Linked DNA regions of Homo sapiens. The protein of the gene in region 2 purifies or fractionates together with the protein of the main gene of each other region. This does not show direct contact. Each region holds a gene or a part of one and is shown on either strand. Other genes may lie near its edges.

Region 1 (4,839 bases), on a different chromosome or scaffold from region 2:
AAATAATAACCCTCACTCAATTTTTAAAACATTGGTATATTGATAATGTTTGATGGGAAAACTTTCAAACTTGTAGAGATAACAACTAACTATACACAACTCTTCCCATACCCCTTCCACAATTATATATACTCCCTACAATAACCACATGAAAACAACTCTTTCATGAACCAAATATCACGTTATATGCATTATGTCTAACTGGCTCAATTAGAAATAAATTAATTTGTTCATCCTTTTTCTGTATAGTAGCTGAATAACTAATTGGTATGTACACTACCCCTAGCATTACTTAAATAAATTGCTTTTGTAAGCATATATGTAGAAATTCCCATTAGTAATTGATATACAATTCATATGATATACAATACATGAACACATTTGAATGCCCAGCACCTTCTTTCAGATAGAAAAACTTCCGCAGTAGTTTCAACAGTCCTGTGGGCTGAATCATTAGATTTGCCAAGAAAATCTATTACTTGCTCACTTTTTATTTCAGCAACTTAACATTAACTACAGCACAGGCTGAATAATAATGATGAAAATGTTTCCATGGTCTATTCATGTCAACAGCACAATAACAACCATGTTCTGTAAAGGACAAGAATATTTCACAATCAGCTGCCTGAGCATTGCCAAGTACAGGGTTAAATAGTAAAAAATAAATTAAAATATTAAAATTGTGAATATATATTTTCAAAAGAAAAAGCTCCACCTATTTCAAGTATGCTTTTATAATTTGATTTTGTCATGATCCTTTATGCTCCGCTATTGGTTAAATCTCAACTCTTTTTCTTATTCTTGCCATTAGCCTTCATTGATCTTGCTCTGTTTCCATAAAAAGGCCACAGTAGATAGTTAAAATGGGAGGGCAGATGGAAAGGTATACAACAAGGAATGAAATGGGCTTGTACAGTTTGTCTTCTTTGAACCCTAAATACCTTTAACTGAATTCATTCTTGACTATTGAAATCCCTGAGATGAACAAAAGCAATCTCAATCGACACTGAAGCCCTTTTTTTCATGCTGAACATTTTTGGAAGTGGGCAATGTATTTAGAGAACACAAAGGATATGGTGACAAAGTAATGTGAAAAAGCTAAAAAGGCACTACTCAATGCATCTATGAGATAAACATCAATGCACAGAACAATGAATGGCTGAGATATGTGTGCTGTGGCCTTAACATTGTTTAAATGTATTTACTGAAAATATACTAAAAATGGTCCGGCTGCGGTGGCTCACACCTGTAATCCCAGCACTTTGGGAGGCTGAGGTGGGTGGATAACCTGAGGTCAGGAAGTTCAAGACCAGCCTGGCCAACATGGTGAAACTTTGTCTCTACTAAAAACACAAAATTAGCCGAGTGTGGTGGTGGGCGCCTGTAACCCCAGCTACTTGGGAGGCTGAGGCACGAGAATCACTTGAACCCAGGAGGTGGAGGTTGCAGTGAGCTGAGATGGCATCACTGCATTCCAGCCTGTGTGACAGAGTGAGACTCCATCTCAAAAAAAAAAAAAAAAGAAAAAAGAAAAAGGAAGAAAATATGCTAAAAATGGCAAGGTACCTTGCTGCTGCTTTTTTAAGATATACTTTAAATGAGTGCCCAGATGGATTTTACCTTTAAGATATTTGCTTGTGACTTCTAGATTTCTGTTGGATTTAAACTAAAGGCTACTAGAATAGCTTATCATTTGCAAGTAGTCCAAATTTAGATTTTATAAATCACTTTCAATTTATTAAGTAAACCAGACTTTTCAACTTTACATTCAAAACATGTATCTATTCTCTTACAATTTCTGATAGATAAGAGGTTTAATTATAAAAGTACATTAATGTTCCATTCATTTTTAGCTATCAGTCTCCTATACGCATTAGATTTTACTTACTTAGAGACACATACATTCTCAAAAGATGTAATATTCTATATCCCAAGGTTTTACTATATTAAAAAAATATGACATCTAATTAAAAATATTGAGAACTGTACTACTGTGAATATCCTTTTCCATGGTAACACACACACACACACACGTACTTCATGCTTTTTATTCATTTCTCAGACTGTTTTCCCTAAGAAACAAAACATATATATTCCCCATGCCATTTCTTCTTTCCTCAAATTGCCTGCCCAAGAAATAAGAAATCAAAGTACAAGTGAGAATGCAGAGCTTCTGCCCAGTTTCTAAAGAAACAATCTACTATCATAAGTTACCAGAAAACTGGCCTATTGGTCAATTCTGTTATACATTAAAAATTTTTTAATTACTTTATTAATAATTTCATGTGTTTCTTGAAGAACATATGTGATATTGTGACTAAATTTAACTACAGAAAATATCGGTCAATTAAATTCATTTTAAATGCAAAATATTGACACAATTTCACTGTTAAACCTCTTGAAATTAATCATCTCTGTTTTGAAAACAATACTCTATTAATAATGTTATTTCTGCACTAAGAAATTTAACAGTAATATATAAAGCATTTCCATATTTCTATTTGAATAACAAGGGGAATATCAAAGAACTGGAAGTCACATTTCAGCTATATCAATCTAATATTTATTCTAAAGGGCAAAATGCTTCCACAAAATTATTATGTAATGCAAAAGGTGTGAAAAACATTTCAAATGAAAATAAAGTATGAGTTTGAAAATTAAAAAATATTTAGAGACAACTTTCACATTAATAGCAAAATAATATATTCATGTTAATAATATATTATTTTCATGAAAGAAAAATGGTTTGCTGTGTAGAAACACAAGTGTAATCTTTGGTACCAAAGATTTTTTTTTCCCGGCCTATTTTACCATCTCTGATGACATGGAACATCTTTCCTTTAGAATGGCCTAATATTACATAGTGGTTCACTTTAGCTGGTACCTTCTACACCACTGGAAAATAACATGGAGGTTTAGAGCCGTGCAAAATAAAACTTTTTTAAAAATGTCGGCCAGGCACGGTGGCTCACGCCTGTAATCCCAGCACTTTGGGAGGCCAAGGCGGGTGGATCACGAGGTCAGGAGATTGAGACCATCCTGGCTAACACGGTGAAAATCCGTCTCCACTAAAAATACAAAAAATTAGCCAGGCGTGGTGGCAGGCGCCTGCAGTCCCAGCTACTCCGGAGGCTGAGGCAGGAGAATGGAGTGAACTTGGGAGGCGGAGCTTGCAGTGAGCTGAGATCGCGCCACTGTACTCCAGCCTGGGCAACAGAGCGAGACAAAAAAAAAAAAAAAAGTCTTTGTGTGATAGCTTTTAAAAAGTATAAGAACTTTAAAAATAATTACTTAAAGTTTATTTCCTCACTCATATGCATCTCAGAAAGGATTTCTAAGCATCCCAATATCCAAACCAAAAGAGATTCCAGAAGACAAAAAAAAAACATAAATTAAAACATAAAATTCATGATCAGACTCAGAGTCCTGACTGAAGCATTTACTTGAGTTGTTTAATCTTACGGATTTCATTGCTCAAACTGCTTCCATCTTGGCTTCTGCTGACAAGGATGGTTTAATTTCCCAAGGTCTGAGTTGCGTTCCTGGGGTTCCTCTTCTAATATGCTTGGTGTTGCTGTGGGCAGCCTGACAGTGATGAACATATTTGCTTTGTTAACTAATGATGAGTGCACTGTTGGATCTTGTAAACACTACTGATTATACATTCAAACTGTATTCTTAGTGGAAGTGGCACTTACTAGGACCCTTAAAGTCAAAATATTTAATTTTTAGAGCACTTTGCAGGTATTTCATCAGCTGGTAGTCGATTTCTCATGAACGTCCTTTATTCACCTTTCAGTTCATTGGTGGATGCTGAAACCCAGCCGTGTTTTGGATCCTATTTTCAAATCTTCGGAAGCATCTTCAGAAAAGAAGTGCATATTGTTTGTTTCAAAATGTGCTTTATTGCTTTACACACTTTCCTGTTGTCAGTTTTAGAGCTCCTCTATTATGTAGCACATTTAATGTTTTGAATTCTAATGGCATTCTGTGAGGGCTTGCATTGGAAAAGTACCTATATTTTAAGTCATCATAATAATGATATTTGACCGCTTTTCCATTTAAATCCTTAGGGAAGGGCCAGAATCCATACAGGTGAATTTCATCACAGAATCTTGTGGCAAGTGTATACATGAGAAGACCTGTGCTGGGTCTTTTGATAGGAACTTTGTTGGTCAGCCAGTAACTGGAAAAACAAAAAACAAAATCAAGAAGAGAAGAATTTAGACACACATAGAGCATATCCTATAGCAAGTATATAATGCAGAAAACTTAAAAGGTATCTTTATGAATAATATTTTAAAGAATTACTGAAGAAATATTTTTAAGCATTTAGAAAATTTGATGCTTTTATTTTATTTCTTCTTTATCCTTTATTTTCTTTCTTATTCTTGAGGTCATATAAATACCCAAGGGACCTGGAATGTAGGTGAATATTACTCTAGAATCTCACCTTTGAAATGAATAATAGCAAACATTTATATAACATGCAGAGTAAAATTTTCTCAAAAAGGATTAAATACAACTGCAGAAGTCATGGTAATTGGGTAGAGATTAAGTAATCCTCCCAGAAAAAAAAGTTTGAAACTATGCCTATAGATTTTCAAAATGTAAGATATTGCAATTAAAAATCCAAAGAAATAAATGCTTTATCTATGTTATATCAACTGATTTATTCAGCTCCAATTTTCCAAGTCACAATTTACTAAAGCAAATTAGAAGCCTCACTTCCACTCACATAAGAACAACAATAAAAAAAAGTTGTAGAATAATTGATAGTTTTCCAGTTATGCAATTTAACATTTTGTTAGATAGATAAAATATATTTCAATGCTGATA
Region 2 (4,839 bases):
CAGCTGTGGGCCATCTTGCATCAAACATGGCTAGAGAAGGCCTGTTTACTCTTATTCTGCAGAAGGACATGGGGCAAGGATGGCTGCGGCCCCCACACTCGGTTTCAGACACAGTCAACACTCATTTCCCAGGTCCCGGCTCTCCTCTCACTTCCTGGTGCCCCTGCCCTTTGGCCACTGGGATCCTGGCACACAGGTGACAGCCAGCTCTTCTGGGGCTGGGCAGTCCACTGGGTCATCACTGCCAAGGACACTCATATAGACACTCAGCCCATCAGATAGACAAGTTGAAGCTGGCTGGGGACAAATACAGCCTGGAGCCTGTACAGTGCAAGATTCTCAAATATTTGCGCATCTCACGTGGAAGCCTGGAACCTGGAGCCTGGGTTCTGGTCTCAGATTCACCCCTGCCTCATTCTGCAACCTTGGCCTTGTTGTTCAACATCTCTGGCTTGGAACTGCTCTCTCTCCCTTTCTTTCTTCCTCATCTTGGTTCTAACAGACCCTCCCCTCATGGCATAGCCTACTGGAGACACTCACTCGAGAGAGAGTAAAGCCCCGTCCCTAACCCAGCTCCTGTGTGTGACTGATGGCACTGGGGCCTGGAGTGTATGCCTGCCACTGAGTCCAGGCCCTCTTCAGTTCCAAGGAACCATCACATCCAGGGGACAACACAGAACAAAGGGCAAGGATCCCAGCTCTGCATCCTCAGCTTGGTCAATGGCCTGATCTGGGGGCTGGGAGACAGGCTGTGGCCCTGTTGTGCTCAGGCAAGTTGATCCTTCTCTGAGCCCATTTTCCTGTCTGTAAAATGGGGCTTACAATCATGGCCTTGTGACATCAGAGAACTACTACGAGGATCAAACAAATGAATGAAACCGATCACATGTTGAGGAATATACAGCACTGGGCACATTTGAGGATTCTCATTCATCAGAAAATGTAAGTATGGAGCATGCTAGAGTCTAAGACTTGCCCATAGTACAATAATACACAGCTTATAAATGAAAGACTCCAGAAGGAGCATAGGGATTAAGGGAATCTAATTCCAACCCCTGCTGTCCAAGGAAGTTTAAGGGACTTGCCCTTCGATCCCACAGCAAGTCCTAAGCCAAGCTGAGCAGGAGACCAGAAGCTGAGACCACTGCTTCCAGAGGTTGCAACATCATAACTGCTTTTCCTCCCCAGTTTACTTTAAGAAGAACTTGGCAGCTCCTGAGACAAATATGCTGCTGGAAATGAAAAGAAAGACTTTGAACTTATGCAGACATTTGGCCCAGTTCATACCAATTTGGCATCAACGCATTCTCCTTGTCCCTGAACATGATTCCGACGTTGGTAGCATGCTGCCGAGAGGAATAGAAGTCTGTGTAGTCTCCTGCAGAGGAAAGACCCAACAGATCCCATCAGCAACCCACATGCCTCAGGAAGAATGGACTGTTCCAAGCACTGGAGCCACGAGTGTGCACACAATACTGTTTACACATCCAGAGCTCAGCCTGCAGCCAGCAATGGCAGCACCAAATGCAATATAAAATATCCTCACTGAAGATTTGTTTTTAGAGCCCTCAGCTGAGAAACAAATAAGAAATCAGGAGTCCAGACTTTCTGAAACTGACAGTGGAATGTGAACACCAAGTGGCTGATACCACCTCCCTTCTCAGGCTCCCCACTTTTCCCACACACAACTGCCATTCCCGAGTTCCCACAGGCTCCCTCACCACGCCTATACTGATTGACTTCTCCCTTGTCCCTGTGTATTCAAATCCTGGCAACTCTTTGAGGCCCGCTCCTCCCTGAAGCCCTCCCTGCTCTCTCTAGCAGGATCTCTTCCCCCTCCAAATCCCCTCCCCTGAATCCTTCTGGGGCAGGCTTCGCTTCCCACTGGTGCTCCAGTTATGTGTGTGCACATCTTTGCTAGACTGTGGACATTCCAGGACAGCCCCAGCCCAGTCCTCATTTTCTTGGACTCTGCCCGAGTGCCAAGGACAAGGGCTTGCACACTGCAGATGCATATCAGTGCTTGTTGATTATGATGAACTGAATGGGCTAGCCAGCAAGCTGTAGGCATATCTACCATTCGGAGAATTAAAAATCTGAAAGAAAAACCAGTTGGGACAGTCTGCCTGTTTTATCTTCCTAAATGTCTCCTCAAAAAAAAAAAATGCTGGATATTCATCAATACCAACAGCCTAGACTAGCAACAGTCATGGTGAAGGGTGAGGAGAGGAAGAACAGTCCACAGGGCAGGTGGAGCCTTAGCTGCTGCTTCCCATCTTCAGTCCCATTGCACAGAAGTAATAGCTGAGAGATTTTTCAAAAGAATAAATCCATAACAAAAAAAAAAAAAAACAAGAAAGGGCACCATCAGTCAACCAGACATGATATCCCTGAAAGACATATGGTTTGCACAACAGCTGGTTTGCCAAAACATAGCACAGTCCCATGAGTGTATGAGAGTGGGGAGTGAGAGGGGCTGGGAGGAGGCAGGTGACTCGGCCCCTGTCCCCAACCCCATCCTCCAGTCAGCTTAGCCCAAGCAGCCCAGCAGCAAAGGACTCTCCCCGGACAGCAGGAGCTGTTCCAGAGAGGCAGTGTACCCCAGGGGCAGGGTCAACTGGCCCCTCAGCTCACAGGTGCCCAGGTAGCCCAGCAGAGGAGACCTGTGCACAAGGAAGAGGGCTGTGCTTTGGGCCGCAGGCTGAGCCAGCCTCTCTCTCTGCTTCAGGTTGAGAGTTTCAACAGCTCCAACTTCCTGAATGACACTCCAACCAGACATCCTGCCACGTGCTCAAACTGGGGCCCTTCATAGCCCTCTGGCCTCTATCCTCAAAACTGCTGACTCACAGACTGAGCTCAGAGAATTTGTCCCATAGCCTTTGGGGGAAGGAAAGCAATTTGCTGTGCAGGGAGCCATGCGGCTAGTCATGAACTTGAGCAGTCTGCAACTCACTACCTGAGGCAAGATAATAGCCTGAGTGAATGCCGGGCCTGGATGCTGGGAAAGGTCAGTGATGAGGAGCGGGTAACAGCCCCAGAGCCCCTCCTCCATCTCCCCCCACCAGCAGGGACCCTCCACACAGATGCAGAACCAAAGCACCTGGCCAGCCCTCTTGGCCCACGAAGCTGCTCCGTTCTTATCTTGGTGAAGAGACTGCACTCACCTATGGTGGCTGGAAGGTGCATCGTGGCAGAAGCCTGGGAGATGAATGCACTGAAACACAGAACCAGGGGCTTCAAAGTCAAGTAGGCAGCAAAGCGCGGTCCCACCCACGGGCTCAGCCCAGACCATCCCCAAGATTATCCACAATCTCCAGTGGGCACCTTCTGGCTGGCCTGGGGCCAGAGCTATGCTGAACCTTTCACAGCTGAGAGGACATCCACCCACTGAAGCCGTTTCTATATTCTACCCTAGGAAATGGGACTAGACAAGTGGAAACTCTTTCCTACTCTAGAAACCAGATGAGGTCACAGATGATGCTAATGAGGACAGCCTGAGTAAGAGAGAGGGCCAATGGGCCTGGCCTGGCCTAGCTTGGGCAGCTCCATTCCAGGCGCCAAGGCAATCCCAGTCCTCCCAAAGCCCTCCCATCAATAGGCAGCTCAGGCAGGGGCTGGATGAGGGCAGGTCTGACTTGGCCACACTAAGGCTGCCAAGCCGTGACTCAGAATGGCACTGATAACCACACAGCCTTCACCTCCCCTGCTGCATCCCCTCATCCCCCCTATGACCACGTGCTTCTCACCACTTCCGAAGTTCGGTGTCATCTCTGAGCCTGGCTTGGCTCACAGACAGCAAGTTCTGCAAGAACACTCTCGCCTCCTTCCAGGCAGCCTGACCCAGGCCCATGAAGCTGTTGAGTGTAGGCTAAGACCAAAACAGGGAGAAAAAAGATCACGTACAGGAAAACCCAGGGAGTATCCCTCCTTCCAATGGAAGGCCAGCCAGCCTGCCAGCCCTTGCCACTTCTCTCCCGCTAACTCAAACTCTCAGGACCTCTGCTCTTAGTTTTGTCATTTATTCATCAACCTGGAGAAAAGCATATCCTCTCTTGACGTTGCCTCAGGCCCTCGTGCACCTGCACACAATTGTCCAAGCCCAGGAGTTGCTACCTGGCACAGCAACTGTGCTAAGCTTGGCCCGGCCCACAGTTGAAGGTGGCCATGTTCTTCCAGTAGAGGCACACTCCAGTCTGCAGAGTGATCACAGCCTAAACTAATTCCTTTCACATCAGTTAAGAAGAGGTTTTGGGCCAGGTGTGATGGCTCATGCCTGTAATCCCAGCACATTGGGAGGCCGAGGTGGAGGATCACTTGAGCCCAGGAGTTCAAGATCAGCCTGGGCAATATAGTGAGACTTCATCTCTATTAAAAAAAAAAAGTTGTTTTTTTTTTTCCCATTCTGTCACCCAGGCTGGAGTGCACTGATGTGATCTCGGCTCACTGCAACCTCTGCTTCCCAGGTTCAAGCAGTTCTCCTGCCTCAGCCTCCCGAGTAGCTGGGATTACAGGCGTGCACTGCCACACCCAGCTAATTTTTGTATTTTTAGTAGAGAGGGGGTTTCACCATGTTGGCCAGGCTGGTCTCGAACTCCTGACCTCAAGTGATCTGCCCACATCGGCCTCCCAAAGTGCTGGGGTTACAGGCGTGAGCCGAGAGGTTTTTTAATTTAAAAAAGGAAGAGGTTTTATAGCCAGTGAAGCATAGCAGAAAAAGCCCTTGTAGGTTCTAAGAGTCAGAGTTCCAGTCCCAGCTCTGATACTTCTAGCTGTGCAGCTTGGGAAAACCATGTCTCATTCCAGAAGTTCAGGTCCCCATCTAGATGCTCAGGCCCCCAT
Region 3 (4,839 bases), on a different chromosome or scaffold from region 2:
TGGGATTACAGGCGTAAGCCACTGCACCTGGCCAATAGTGATAATTCAGTCCTTACAATGTTATGAAATACATAGGTACTATTGTTATTCATTTTATACGTGAATAAATTTAAGGCATAAAGAAGGTATCCTGGTTGGCTGTGGTGGCTCATGCCTGTAATCCCAGCACTTTAGGAGGCTGAGGCAGGCGGATCACCTGAGGTCAGGAATTCGAGACCAGCCTGGCCAAAATGGTGAAACCCTATCTCCACTAAAAATACAAAAATTAGCCAAGTGTGGTGGTGGGCATCTGTAATCCCAGCTACTTGGGAGGCTGAGGCAGGAGAATTGCTTGAACCTGGGAGGCGGAGGTTGCAGTGAGCCAAGATTGTGCCACCGCACCCCAGCCTGTGCGACAGAGTGAGACTCTGTCTCAAAAAAAAAAAAAAAATTAATGGTATCCCCCAAAGTCAGACAGCTAATAACTGGCTTAGCTGGGATTTGAACACAGGCAATTTGGTTCCAGATCTGCTTTACTTTTCTTGTTCAGTGCTGTATTCATAGTGCCTAAAATAATGTCTGCTACAGACCGGGCAGAGTGGCTCACACCTGTAATCCCAGTGCTTTGGGAGGCTGAGGTGGGTGGATCACAAGGTCAGGAGTTCAAGACCAGCCTGGCCAACATGGTGAAACCCTGTCTCTACTAAAAAACAAAAAATTATCCAGGCATGGTGGCAGGCACCTGTAGTCCCAGCTATTCGGGAGGCTGAGGCAGGAGAAGTGCTTGAACCCAGGAGGCGGAGGTTGCAGTGAGCTAAGACCATGCCACAGCACTCCAGCCTGGGCAACAGAGCGAGACTGTGTCTCAAAAAAAAAAAAAATAATAATAATAATAGTAATAATAATGTCTGCTACAAAGAACGTGCTCAACAACATTTTTTGTAAATGAATAACTATTACAGAAAAAATACGTGCAATGGGAACACACTGGGGTCACACTACCCAGCACTGAGGGAGGGGTGGTGGTAGTTGGAGGAGATTTTCTGGAGGAGCTCATTTTTTAAAGTGAGACATGACAGATGATTAGGAGTTAGTCAGATGAAAGGGGAGAGATGGGGAAGAGGGTCACACACTCAGGAAATGGCATATACAAAGGCTTAGACTTCCCCATGCTCTTTCCTCAAAACTTTGTTGCTTTGAATTATTCAGGAAGAAGCAGCTTTGGCAAAATTTTGTTAACTTTTAAATCTTTTTTAGGGAACCTTCTGAGAAGCACTGATTATGACCTCACAGATGCTGCTGGCAGTCCCTTCCTTGCAGAATCCTTGCTCCTGAATATCTTTAAGAAAATTTCTTAAAGGAAAAGACAAAAAATTTAACTCAAAAGTTACCTGTTTGCCATAGAAATTGGTGTCTCCCCTGAAGGAGGATCGAGAGCCGGTGAATGAGAACATTGGCAAAGGCACTGGAATGGGGACATTCACTCCCACCTAAAACAGAACAAATCCGTGTCATATCCTAAGGACAAAGGAACTCTCCATTTAGAAACACAAAGGCATCAGAGACCAGTTTTAAATACCCACCTTCTACCCTATCCTCTACCCCATGAACTTTCATTCCTGAGGAAGAAATGGGGCAATGTGGGAGGTCATGGGGGCAATCTTAAACCAATGACTCACCATTATTTACTGTTTCCTCTTAGGAAATAGTAAATGGATATAAGAATCTCTTAAAAATTCTGTTCACGAACCTGTCCAACATCCACCAAGTGGGCATATTTCCGAGCAGTGGCTCCATTGGTGGTGAAGATGGCAGTTCCATTTCCATATGGGTTGTTATTTACAATCTGGATGGCTTCATCCAATGTTTCTGTCTCCAGAACCACAAGAACTGGACCAAAAATCTCCTCTTTGTAACAGGTCATATTTGGCTGCCAGGAGTGATGCATCCAGAAAAGAAGTCAGCTTTTTGGATTCTGAGTATTTTATGCTTATTTGGTACTTTCACTTACTACACATCATTTACGTGGACAACTTTCATATTACTAATCTCTTTTCATTTCAAATCACCTATTTAAAAAAAAAGTCCTCTCTCAAGTGTATTCCGTCTTCCAAGTTACCAATCATATAAACAACTTGGAATTCCTATCAACAATAACCACACTTCCTTTAAGGGACTGTATCTTTAGTTCATGACCCATCATCAGCTGCCTTTTTAATACCTGAACGACTAGTTTCATCCAATTGTTATCAAAAAGTTACATGAAAATTTATTTTTTATAAATCCAATCTATAGTAAATATACCAGGATAATTTTTCTCTTTACAGAAACCCCATGCTGTTTTCTGTAACATAAATAATCCATTCTTATTCACTCCTTTGCCTCCCAAATATGTCTGTATGTTTATATTTTGATATCAGGTCGCAGACACTCAAAACATCCTTCACCATGCAATTAATGTTTGTTGCTGATAAACGGATTTTTCTGTATGGTTCTGTGGCAAGAGATTTCATAATTTCTACTGCACTTACATTCAACACTTGATGATTCACTATTATAGTAAGGATATATGAATTTCAAAAAATGCCTCATAACCTCAATTTTTAAGTCATGTTAGCTGAGAGACTTTCAAAGTTTTGATAAATAAAAATTGACAAGTCAATTATTTTTGTCACTTTCAATAAATATTGGGTGGTTGATATATTGATTGAGACACTGCAGTAGCCATAAGCTAGGCAGCAAGAGGGAGAGGGGAGAGAAAACATTAACAAACCAGTATAAGATAAGATAGCGTTTGGCAAACTATAGCCTGTGGGCCAAATGTGGCTTCCTGCCTGTTTTTGTACAGCCCCAAGTTAAAAATGGTTTTTGCATTTTTAAATGGTTGAAAAAAAATTAATCATATATAAAATGATATGAAATTCAAATATCAGTGTCCATAAATAACATTTTTTTTGGAACACAGCCACACAATGTTTATAGCTGATCTCACACTACAATGTCAGAGTTTAGTTGCAACAGACACTATATCCCTGCAAAGCTGGAAATATCTATCCCTTTATGGAAAGTCTGCAGACTGCTGGTATAGTGGAAAGAGTTTGGTTGGGAGTTAGAAGGAGAGGCTCATTCAGACTCCAGATAAAATAATTGATCAATCCTGGCAAGAGATAAGGTCTTAGTCATTAAGTATTTTCATTAATAAATTAGAGGGATGAGATTCTATAGCCTTTAAGGTGCCTTCAGCTCTCATATTTGTGAAGTGAAAGTTGTTCACCTTGACATTCGAGATGATGGTTGGTCCAACAAAGTTGCCATTTTCATAGCCTTTCACTTTAATTTTTCGTCCATCAAGAAGGATGGAAGCTCCCTCCTTTGTTCCACTATCAATCAGATTACAGACTCGCTCTTTGGCCTGGGGAGTGATCAGAGGGCCAAGATCAGCTCCAGGCTGATCTCCTGTAAAACAACACAGAAGAATTTAAGGTCCTCATTAACATAAATTATGACTGCTGCCAGGGCTCATGCCTGTAATCCCAAAGCTTTAGGAGGCCAAGGCAGGAGGACTGCTTGAGCCCAGGAGTTCCAGACCAGCCTGGGCAACAAAGTGAGACTTCATATTTACAAAAAATAAAAAAATTAGCCAGGTGGTGGCCCGCACCTGTGGTCCAAGCTGCTCAGGAGGCTGAGGCAGGAGGATCACTTGAGCCCAACAGTTTGAGGCTGCCATGAGCTAGGATGGTGCCACTGCACTCCAGCTTGGGTAACAGACAGCCTGTGCTTTAAAAAAAAAGACTGCTAACAAGATGACTCCAAATGACAAGTACAGTATAAAGAGAGGAAATGGCAAGAATAGACATGATTGTTCCCACTGGCCAAGGCCAGTGACAGAACCCAAGAGCTTAATGCCACAGATGCAAAATCTAAGGGGGCAAGTCAGGTGATTGATTACCTGCATTGACTCTCAGGTTTTTGGCATGCTCCACCAGCTCTGGCAGCCACTTCTTGGCTTCTCCCACAAGGACTGCTGTTGAAAGAGCCATGCAGCGCTGACCAGCAGCTCCAAATGCTGCCCCAACCAGCTGGTTCAGGGTATTTTCCTTATTGGCATCTGGCATGACTACCCCATGGTTCTTGGCTCCCTAAAAAAAAATGCAGAAAGCACATGAGTCTTCCTTGGCCAAATACAACTAAGCTAAGAAATTAAGCAGTGGACCAGGTGTGGTGGCTAATGCCTGTAATCCCAGCACTTTGGAAGGCTGAGGTGAGAAGGATAACTTGAGGTCAGGAGTTCAAGACCAGCCTAGGCAACATAGTGAAACACCATCTCTACAAAAAATACAAAAAATTAGCCAGGCATAATGGCACCAGTCTGTGGTCCCAGCTACTTGGGAAGCTGAGGTAGGGGGACCACTTGATCCTGGGAGGCGGAGGTTGCAGTGAGCCAAGATCACACCATTGTACTCCAGACTGGGTGACAGAGTGAGACCCCTGTCTCAAAACAAACAAACAAACAAAAAACAGGAATTTGTTGTCTGCTGGGTTTTTTAGTTATATGAAGAGCAATGTTAAAAAAAAAAAAAAAAAGAACTTACAGCCTTACAGCAATAATGCCAGTAACCAGCTGAAAGGCAAAACAGAAAGTAGACCTCTTGATGTAGAATTTCAAGAAAGAGGCCAGGCATGGTGGCTCATGCCTGTAATCCCAGCACTTTGGGAGGCTGAGGTGGGTGGATCACTTGAGGTCAGGAGTTCAAGACCAGCTTGGCCAAGAAACCCTGTCTCTACTTAAAATACAAAAATTAGCTGGGTGTGGTGGTAGGCACCTGTAATCCCAGCTACTCAGGAGGCTGAGGCATGAGA
Region 4 (4,839 bases), on a different chromosome or scaffold from region 2:
TAAATGATAGGTTAATGAGTTTTGTTCAGTCTCTCAGATCAGATTAATTCACTCTTATTTGCTCCCATAGGACACTGGTTCTTCTTTCAGTGGTAGTCATCATACTTGTAATTATGTAATGTAATGTCTGTATTCCACACTAAGCTAGTAGGTCCACAAAGCCCAAACCATGTGTCTTGTTTATGGCTTTCTTCTTGTGTGGTAAGGCTCAGCAAGTTGACTGAGTAGCTTCTTGGTAAAGTCACCAGTAAGCTCAGGCTCTATGTCGCTCAATGTAATGGACATTTTCAGTCGTCCTCTTACGTGAACTGTCATCTGCATTCAGCTTTCTTCTCAAAAAACTCTCCTGGTTCTTTTTCTGTCTTGATTTGCTCCTTCTGGTTTCTTTTGCAGACTCATCCTCCTCTACCTGGCCATTAATGATGGGGTTTCTCTAAATTTGGTCCAAGGTCTTTTCACTCTACATTTTTCTCCCTAGGCTAATCACAGAAGTCTCCTAGAGATACCCATTTGTGTCACTGGTGTATAGGTAAAAATAGAACCTTTGAATTTCTGTGGAGATTCATAGATTCTATTTTTGAGCTCTAGACAAGTTCATCTAACTGCCTGATAGACATTCATTCATGAATCCATTCATTCAAGAAATATATCACAGCCTCCATGTGTAAGGCACTGTTCTGTGCTCTGATCATACAGCAATGAAAAAAACAAATCACTGCTCTCATGGAGCTTATGTTCTAATGAAGTAAATAAATACTATAGTAGAAGGTAGTAAGTTTTATGGAAACAAGGAAAGCAGGATAAGGGGATTCTTCCATGGATGAGAAGTTGGAACAGTGTTACAATTTTAAATAAAGTAGTCAGGTTATGCCTCACTGCAAAGATGACAGAAGATGAAACTTCACAGCTAGACTTAGACTTGGCTTTAAAGCCAAGTCGGAGGCTCCAGGGTAGGGTCCTTGACATGTTCAAGGAACAGCAGTAAGGCTAGTGTGTCTGGAGTGAGAAGAATAGGAAGGGATATCCAAGAGGGTACTGGCATCCAGGTAGTGTAGGGCAGGGGTTGGCAAACTTTCTGCAAAAAGTCAGGTAAGCATTTTAGCTTTTGTGGGCCATGTAAGGTCTCTTCCCCATAGTTTTCCCTTCTCTCTCTTTTTGAGAAAGGAGTCTTTAATAATGTAAAACTCATTCTTAGCTTATCCTCCTTAAGGACCCTAGGCTGGATTTTGTCCTCCCCTCTAGCTGTCCATAGTTGCTCAATCAACCCATGGTATAAGACCTTGTATGCATTACAAAGAGGCACCTCACACTCAACCTGTGTATGCCTGTTGCTTATGTTTCCTGTCTAGGCAGGTGTCTAGTATTGTTCACCCAGTTACTCCGGCCAAAAGCCTGTTAGTCATCCATGAGACCTTTTACTGTTGACCCTTTATAACAAATCCGTTGCCAATCTCTATTAATTTTACCACCTAAATTTCTCTAGTATCTGTTTCTATCTACATCATCGCTGTAGTCTAAGCATGAACAGTAGTTTCCTAACTGATCTCTGTACATCTACTTTTGCTCTCTTTCAATTCTGTCTTGACACAGCTTCCAGATTGATCCTTTAGAATCATGCCAACCTTTCTGTCAGAAATATTCATGACTTCTTCATGAACAGATTTGTCACGTTCCTACAGTTTCTCTGGTCTCATTTTATAGACACTGCTCTTTTCATTCTCTGCTTTTCAGTTCTTACATGTCATACTGCTCCCTCTTATCCAGAATCCTGGCACCTGCCCTTTCCTCGCCCTGGGATACTTTTTTCTTCTGCCCTGCACTTCTCACCATCCTGTAGACTTTAGTTCAAACCATTCAGCAACTATATTTGGATACCCAGTTTTTGTCAGTCCTGTTCTAGGCACTATGTGAACAAATAACTCAGATAAAATACATCATAAACTTCCTCTTGCAGAGTTTATAGGCTAGTGCATTTATTGTTGAACTCCATAAACCCAGTCAGTTGTGAATAAAATAAATATTTGCAACACCAAGTGTCTCATTTTTGAAGCAGGTACATTTGCCTTTCACATTTATTTGTGTGATTTTTTGACTAATTTCTGTTTTTCACAATATGCTACACACTCCATGAGAATAGGGACTCTATTCCTCCCTCACCCCACCATCATTGCCTCTCTAGCAGTGAACACAGTGCTTGACACATTAACAGGGATTCAATAGGCAGTTTTTGAACTGATACCTTAATGAGTTAATTGATTAAAAAATTAAAGTTGTGACCTTAATTTCCTCCTCAGGACTCCATAAGATGGACTTATATTTCCTTCCATTTTTTTCTGTAAATACATATACATTAATATTTATATGGCTTTTTATTACTTACCAGCTTTGGAGTAGATAATTCTTCTTTTAGGTCATGTAAACATGTTGTCAAAATTAAATTATGATTTTTTCAAGTTAAAATAAAATTACACTGAACACACATTTTGGACTTTTTTTAACCAAGAAAATTAGGTTCTTCTAACTACAGAAGTTTAACAGTCACTTTAGGAATTTATTACTATTAAGAATATGATAAGAAATGACTATTAAAAGTCACATATAAATACAGAAATAAAATTTTTTTTAGAAAAATCAATTTATTTATTTATTCCTGTACTACCCACTAAACAAATTAGGTAACTTAAAACTTAAGCTTAAACAAGATCTTCAGAGTAATCAATGGTGAAGCCAGGAGTAAAATAATCAAAATTATTGCTAGTTATTGAGACCTAGTTAGTTAATTCATATTAGTAAGTCAGTTTCTATATGGTTATTATGATGTATGGAGCTTTTTTAAATCCTTTATTCCATCCTCTGTGTGACATAAAAGTTTTAGACTGCTTTGAAATGCATTGTATTACTAAAATATTTATTTTAATCTAGATTTTTTGATTCATCAGGTGATTCTGGACAAGGATTAAGAATGTGGATCAAGCAGGTTTTAAATCAAGATTTAACATTCCAACACATAAAAATTATTTATCCAACAGCTCCTCCCAGGTATGCAGTAATTTATCTCACTTGTCAATATAACTCTGTGGCATAAAATATATATAGAGAGATGTGCCAGCTAGGTGTTCTTTAAGCTTAATTTTGTATTTAACATACTTTAAATTAGAGTACTTTGTCCCCAGAATGTATTCTTTATTGCAGTTACACTGTTGGACCAAGTTTTGCCAGGTGAGTAATTTATTCCCTTTCTGTAAAGCATTCCCTAAAGCTCTGAATTTAAACTGTGTCCCAAGCATGGCTTATGTAACTCTGCTTCCTCTTGCCCTGCAGATTGCTCAACTTTCATACTTCTTCCCTACATTCACCCCAAAAGGAAACTTAATAACTCCAACAAGTATAATCTTTCTAATAATTTAGTTAAGCCAGAATTCATAATCTCTGGGAAAGGGTTTTATGGCATTCTTTCCACATTTAAAAGGATTATCAAGAAACAATGTTATGCTTTTTTAATCAGTAAACCAGAATAGGAAGATAGAATTGACTACTTAATAAATATTTAGGTTATATAACCTGTAGGTGTGTGCAAAAAATTCACAGTAATAAAACTGCTATAGTTTTGAGGTCAAACTACTCTTTGTAAATATTAAATTAACATCTGCATAGTCTTTTATTCGGAACACATGCCGTAAATCAGGGATTGGGATTTTTTTTTGGTTAAGTGAAATGATGTGTGGAGCTACGCCCCAATCTGATTTTTCTCATAATCTGTTCTTGATTTTTTTTTGTTTCTTTTTCTTCTTCTTTTTTTATTTTTTCCAGACAGAGTCTCACTCTGTTGCCTAGGCTGGAGTGCAGTGGTGCAGTCTTGGCCCACAGCAGCCTTTGCCTCCCAAGTTCAAAGGATTCTCCTGCCTCAGCCTCCTGCCTAGCTGAGAATACAGGCATGTGACACCACGCCCAGCTAATTTTAAAGACAAGGTTTTGCCATGTTGGCTAGGCTGGTCTGGAACTGTTGACCTGAGGTGATCCACTCACCGCGGCCTCCCAAAAGTGCTGGAATTACAGGCATGAGGCACTGCACCTGGCCTGTTCTTGATTTTTTTCTTATCAGGCATACTATGCAAATGCCTTGCTTTATATTTTCATTAACTTAGTATTAAGGAGAAATAAAACCAGAACTTCAAGGACGTTTTTATATGTACTAATAAGAATTTACTTACTTTAATTGATAGAATTGAAAAAGGGAGAACAAAATGATAATGTAAGACTGAAGACTCAAAGGAGTTATTATTTAAATGTAATTTTAATAGAGTTTAAAAGTTTGGTAATCTAGTTAAAAGACCCAATCACCAGTGGTTATTTTTGTGCTATAAATTGCATGTCTTTGAAAATGTCAAAAAAGCTTCTTGTTACTGATTTTTAGGATAGTTGAAGTTGGAAGGAAGAAACATAGTGGTATTTCTGCAGGGATGAAAGATAAGTTCATTTCTACCTAAATATAAATACAATTGTCTGATTAATCATAAGACCACTGAAAACCTTATTCTAGGAATTAATATTTTTTATCTTAAGAATTTCATGTCATTACCAATTGTGATAGGAATTCTAGGCAGTATTTCTCAAACTTTAGGCCAGAGTTATTTCAGAAAATCCAAAAATCTCCATGTGCACTAAGCATTATTTGTGGGTGCTGTTGTGATTTAGTAAAATATGAAATCATTGGACCAGCTTCATGGTAACTTTTTGTTACACAGTTTTATAACCAATAGCTATTTGAACAGATCATCGAACGTTTTAGACCATACTCACCAATAGAAATGTAATATGAGCTACATATAAATTTAAATG
Region 5 (4,839 bases), on a different chromosome or scaffold from region 2:
GAGCCACAGACAGAAGGATCTGTGGCCCAGAGCAGATGTCTGAAAGGAGGGTGCCTCCATCTCCCCTGGGGCAAGGCTGGCACATGAAGCCAACAGGATGGGTCCAGGGCAGCAGGGAAGAGCCCAGCAGTGGGGCCAGGCCACATCAGCTCGAGGGGGTCAGCCAGAATCACCCACTCCGTGGCTGCTGCCCACACCCCCACCGCCTGTTACACAAACATGGGCTGGGCTGGCTGAAAGTGAGTGTGGGTAGCTGAGGGAGGAGAAGGAAACACCACAGATAAATCCCAGGGATGGTGGGTCAGCAGTACCATCTCCACTCGAGAGGGACAGTGAGTTATCTGGAGGGGAACAGGGAGTCAGCCAAGAAGGGGTCTGGATGTGCCTACACTCACTAGGTGGCCATGGACTTCTCCTGGAAGGTGACGAAGGCCATTCCCAGGGGCTGGTCCTGGACGTGGCGTTCTTCCTCTGTGATCCTCTCCAGCAGCCTGTCCTTCATCCGTGTGTAGTAAGAGATGGCGTCTTCCTGCCACAAGACACATCCCATTGGGATGACGTGGCCCCATGCTGGTATCTGGGGCACCCCGATGCCAATGCCTCTGCTCCCAGCCGGGGGGTGGGACCCTTACCCACTCACAGCCCAGCACTTCACAGCAGCAAAACTGGCCACAGGGCTTGGGGTTGATGAGGGTCCGCTGGCCTGTCTTCACCTGCAGGTTTGTGTAATAGGTCAGGCTCTTCTCAGTCTTCTTTCTGTAGGGGTGGGAGCGGGGGCACAAACCTCAGATTTAGAATCCTGTGGCAGGGACCCCCATACCCACAGTTCAACCATCGAACGCCAGGGGAGAAGGAGGGGTCCAGGGCCTCCCGCCTCCCTTCCTAGCTGGGAGATGCGAGGCCAGCAAGGAAGGAGGGGGCATCTTGCAAGGCCCGCCCACCACTCACTTCTCCTTGCACAGGTAGATCAGTTTGGCCACGTTGTAGCACAGCTGCACATCAACCACCTCACACGTGGGATACGCGTCCCTGTGGCCAGGGAGAGAAGGAGGCAAAAGACACCGTTGGAAAAGAAAACACCCCAAGCAGGAGACGTGCCCACGGATCCAAGGGAAAGGATGGCAGAGTGATCTCGCTGCTGGTTTCTGTGCCAGCGGAGACCTCTCTTCTCTTTGTCTTTTATCCTCCAAAAGGGGGAAATTTTGAAATTTAATACAAAGAGGGCTTTTGTTTTGTTTTGTTTTGTTTAGAGACAGGGTCTCACTCTGTCACCCAGGCTGCTGTACAGTGGCACAATCATGGCTCACTGTAGCCTCAACCTTCTGGGCTCAATCAATCCTCCCACCTCAGCCTCCTGAGTAGCTGGGGCTACAGGCACATGCCACCAGGCTGATTTTTATTTTTTGTAGAGACGGGGTCTCGCTATGTTGCCCAGGCTGATTTCGAACTTCTGGCCTCAAGCACTCCTCCTGTCTCACCCTCCCAAAGTGCTGGGATTGTAGGCGTGAGTCACTGCACCCCGCTAGCCTTTTTTAGTAGTATGAAGCTAACTGCCTGGAACTGACAAGTTTATACCCACTTGGCTTGGAATCAGCTGGCACTTCTCCTGGGGAAAAATGAACACATCACTATCCCCTCTAAAGACCCAAAGGAACAGATTTATTGTTTGTGCTAGGTCAGTATCTACCTTGAGCCATCACTGAAATCCTATTCAGGTAGCCTTTTTTAAGGTCACAGACCTTTCAGAGGGTCTAATGAAAGCAAAGGACCCTCAGACCAGAAAATATCTACACACATATTAACAACCAGCAAGGCCAGGTGCGGTGGCTCATGCCTGTAATCCCAGCACTTCGGGAGGCTGAGCCGGGTGGATCACTTGAGGTCAGGAGTTTGCGACCAGCCTGGCCAATGTGGTGAAACGCTGTCTCTACTAAAAATACAAAAATTAGCCAGGTGTGGTGGCACACACCTGTAATCCAGCTACTTGGGAGGCTGGGGCACGAGAATCACTTGAACCTGGGAGGCAGAGGTTGCAGTGAGCAAGATTGCCCCACTGCACTCCAGCCTGGGCAACAGAGTGAGACTCCGTCTCAAAAAAAAAAAAAAAAAAAAAAAAAACCCAGCAAAATACATACTCACTATTGACCAGGTATTGTTACATATATTTATTTATTTAATCCTCATCATAACCTGTGAGGTTTTGTCCCCATTTTACAGATGAGTAAACTGAGGCCGACAGAGGTAAGTGGCTTGTGCCCAAGATCACACAGCTAGTGAGTGTCTGAGCCAGGAGGTGAATACAGGCAACCTGGCTCCAAGGTCAATGCTCATGGCCACCATGCAATACCCCCTCACCATACACGCAAAATTATACATACAATTCCAGGGGATTCCAGAACCATGTAAATCCCCACCTACCACCTGCCAGGCACTGTTCTAGGTGCTGGTAACAGGGCCTGGATGTGCTTACATTTTAGTGAGAGAGACAGCCCATAGGTATATCAATCATGAAATTAAACAGTAGGACAATTTCTGGTCTCAATAAGAGCTGTGAGGAAGAAAACTGCAATTTAAGCATCCCTGCTTGAAAGGCAAATTCATACATCAATCCCCACGGACTGCAACAGCATTCACTAAAAAGGCCTCTTAAAATAGGGGAAAGCATGAGTCATGCAATGTTTGTATGAGAATGAGGAGACTTTTTTTTTCTCTTTAAAGTTATACATTAAGTGGAATTACTGTTTCCAGGTGTTGCCTAGCAGGCAACTTTGAGGAGTTGCTTCAAGGAAATACAGAAAAATGATTCTGGTATTGAGTATTTACATATTAGTAAATATTTCTAAAATACTTAGAGTTTCTGAAGAAGTTTTTCAAATTTTAAACATTCAGTTTACGATCCTGTCTAGCAATTTGCTTAGCAAGTGCTTTCTTCACAAATAGTGCAAAGTTAAAGTGCAGCCAACTCCTAGTCCATGCAACAAATTAGTGGCTGCTGTATTGATAAGGAATGAAGAGAGGCCGGGCATGGTGGCTCACGCCTGTAATCCCAGCACTTTGGGAGGGCAAGGCAGGAGGATCACTTGAGCCCAGCAATTCGAGACCAGCCTGGGCAACATAGCAAGACTCTATCTCCATAAAAAATTTAAAAATTAGCTGGGTGTGGTGCCATGTGTCTGCAGTCCCAGCTACTTGGGAGGCTGAGGCAGGAAGATGCCTTAAGTCCAGGAGTTGAGGCCGCAGTAAGCTATTATTGCACTACTGAACTCTAGCCTGGGCAACAGAGCAAGACCCTGTCTCTAAAAAAATAAGATTACAAAAAAAGGAATGAAGAAAGAATAAAATGTCAGCTCCTCAGCCCAGCCTTCAGGTCCTCCAGCATGGGGTCCTGGGAGCCTTCCCGGACTGCTTGCCCTGCCCCCCTGCACCCCACCGCCACCTTTCCTGATGCTCTGGGCCTTTCCCCGCATCCCTGGCTGCACACGTAATCTCCTCACAGGAAAGACTTTCCTCCAGCCTCCATCTGCAGGAATTGGTGGTGCAGATACTCAAAGGGAGCCGCTGGAAAGGAGGTTCTACCAGGGAGAGCCTGGACTCAGACACAGTGCTCACTCAACAGACACCCGCTCAGTGGGTGGACAAACGAACAAACGCAGAGATGGCCCCGAGGTCCTTCCACCTGTGAGACCCTAGCCCTGTGGGTCCATACAAATGCTCAGCTCACGTCTCTCTTATTCTGCAAAGGTGATGCTAAGAACCCCGGGGTCAACAATTTTTTCCCCCGTATGCTCTCAAGACGTTTATTCGCACCTACACCCTGGTCTGTGCTCTGGACACTGTGCACAGGCTGCTTGAAGAGGATAGGCCACCAGGGCGCTATTCACTGCACAGCACCAGCAGGGCTGGCACACAGGAGCCACTCCATACACGTGTGGCAGGGCCAGGTCCTTCTCAGATCTCACCTGGATACCCAAGCGAGAGACAGAAGGCGCTCACCTAAGGTGCTCGCCCTGCGGGTGGGGCTGTGTTGGTCCTACGTGGAGGGGGCTCAGCTCCCCTCCCACCCCACCTGCTTACCGGAAGTGGCTCTCCACAGTCTCCTTCCTGGCATCTCTGGGGAGTCCTGTGATGAACAGGGTCCGCCTCACCTGTCCGGGAAATACAGCAGGGAGAGAAGTCACCCACAAGCCAGTGTGCCGGTATGCTCAGGTTTCCTACCCAACTCCAGCCTCTGGAAAGTAAACAACAGGAAATCAGAAGGCTCCAGTTTTCTCCTTCTGTGGCCGGGGGAGCCCCCAAAGCATGTCATTTACACAGCGTCTTCTTCCAGGCTGTACAAAGAATCCACTTCCAAAGCAACTCTATGAGCCTTCTTTGCATGGCAGGAGACTGAGAAAGAGGGGAAGTGACTCAAATGCGGTCACACAGCAGATCAGAGGAGGACCCAGGCCTGGAACCAAGCCACAGAAGCTCCCCTCCCCTGTGAAGCTGTGGGCGGCAAAGAGAAAGGGCTGCTCTCAACCCAAATTTCTTTACTTAGCACCAGTAACTGTCCAAATCTTGAAACAATCCACCAGGAAACTGTTTTTTTTAAAGATGGTGCCAAGTGTGAGCAAGAATAAGCAAGCGGGGCTCCTGAGGCCCTCCCAGAGCTCATTGCAGTCAGGGCCTGTGGCAGAGCCTGGGAGGCCCTTCCACTCCGACTCCCACCTGAGTCCCTCCCAGCACATGTCCCTAAGTCCCGCCTCACTCACCAGGTTCTCCTCTTTGTACTTAATGGACTGAGTGTGGTGCCGCATGAAACCCACAGTGAGGAAGAGGTAAATGACAGCAAAGATGGTG

What was found.
Region 1: the proteins of FAH (region 2) and ST8SIA4 purify together in Homo sapiens (co-immunoprecipitation; one large-scale study listed by IntAct). This does not show direct contact.
Region 3: the proteins of FAH (region 2) and ALDH6A1 fractionate together in Homo sapiens (co-fractionation; one large-scale study listed by BioGRID). This does not show direct contact.
Region 4: the proteins of FAH (region 2) and LYPLAL1 fractionate together in Homo sapiens (co-fractionation; one large-scale study listed by BioGRID). This does not show direct contact.
Region 5: the proteins of FAH (region 2) and TMEM63A purify together in Homo sapiens (co-immunoprecipitation; one large-scale study listed by IntAct). This does not show direct contact.

Annotation. Positions count from the first base shown.
Region 1 is NC_000005.10:100,807,944-100,812,782, forward strand, and holds part of ST8SIA4 (CMP-N-acetylneuraminate-poly-alpha-2,8-sialyltransferase isoform a precursor), read right to left. Parts: intron 4,187-4,839; coding exon 3,904-4,186; 3' UTR 1-3,903. UniProt on the Homo sapiens protein: Catalyzes the transfer of a sialic acid from a CMP-linked sialic acid donor onto a terminal alpha-2,3-, alpha-2,6-, or alpha-2,8-linked sialic acid of an N-linked glycan protein acceptor through alpha-2,8-linkages.
Region 2 is NC_000015.10:80,158,785-80,163,623, reverse strand, and holds part of FAH (fumarylacetoacetase), read right to left. Parts: intron 3,869-4,839; coding exon 3,747-3,868; intron 3,215-3,746; coding exon 3,165-3,214; intron 1,379-3,164; coding exon 1,288-1,378; intron 1-1,287.
Region 3 is NC_000014.9:74,063,452-74,068,290, forward strand, and holds part of ALDH6A1 (methylmalonate-semialdehyde/malonate-semialdehyde dehydrogenase [acylating], mitochondrial isoform 1 precursor), read right to left. Parts: intron 4,119-4,839; coding exon 3,929-4,118; intron 3,436-3,928; coding exon 3,254-3,435; intron 2,642-3,253; exon of another isoform or gene 1,910-2,641; coding exon 1,730-1,909; exon of another isoform or gene 1,470-1,729; coding exon 1,371-1,469; exon of another isoform or gene 1,338-1,370; coding exon of another isoform or gene 1,237-1,337; intron 1-1,236. UniProt on the Homo sapiens protein: Malonate and methylmalonate semialdehyde dehydrogenase involved in the catabolism of valine, thymine, and compounds catabolized by way of beta-alanine, including uracil and cytidine.
Region 4 is NC_000001.11:219,176,208-219,181,046, forward strand, and holds part of LYPLAL1 (lysophospholipase-like protein 1), read left to right. Parts: intron 1-2,939; coding exon 2,940-3,039; intron 3,040-3,192; coding exon of another isoform or gene 3,193-3,219; intron 3,220-4,839.
Region 5 is NC_000001.11:225,861,823-225,866,661, forward strand, and holds part of TMEM63A (mechanosensitive cation channel TMEM63A), read right to left. Parts: coding exon 4,752-4,839; intron 4,146-4,751; coding exon 4,075-4,145; intron 1,030-4,074; coding exon 949-1,029; intron 757-948; coding exon 633-756; intron 530-632; coding exon 396-529; intron 1-395. UniProt on the Homo sapiens protein: Mechanosensitive cation channel with low conductance and high activation threshold. In contrast to TMEM63B, does not show phospholipid scramblase activity. Acts as a regulator of lysosomal morphology by mediating lysosomal mechanosensitivity.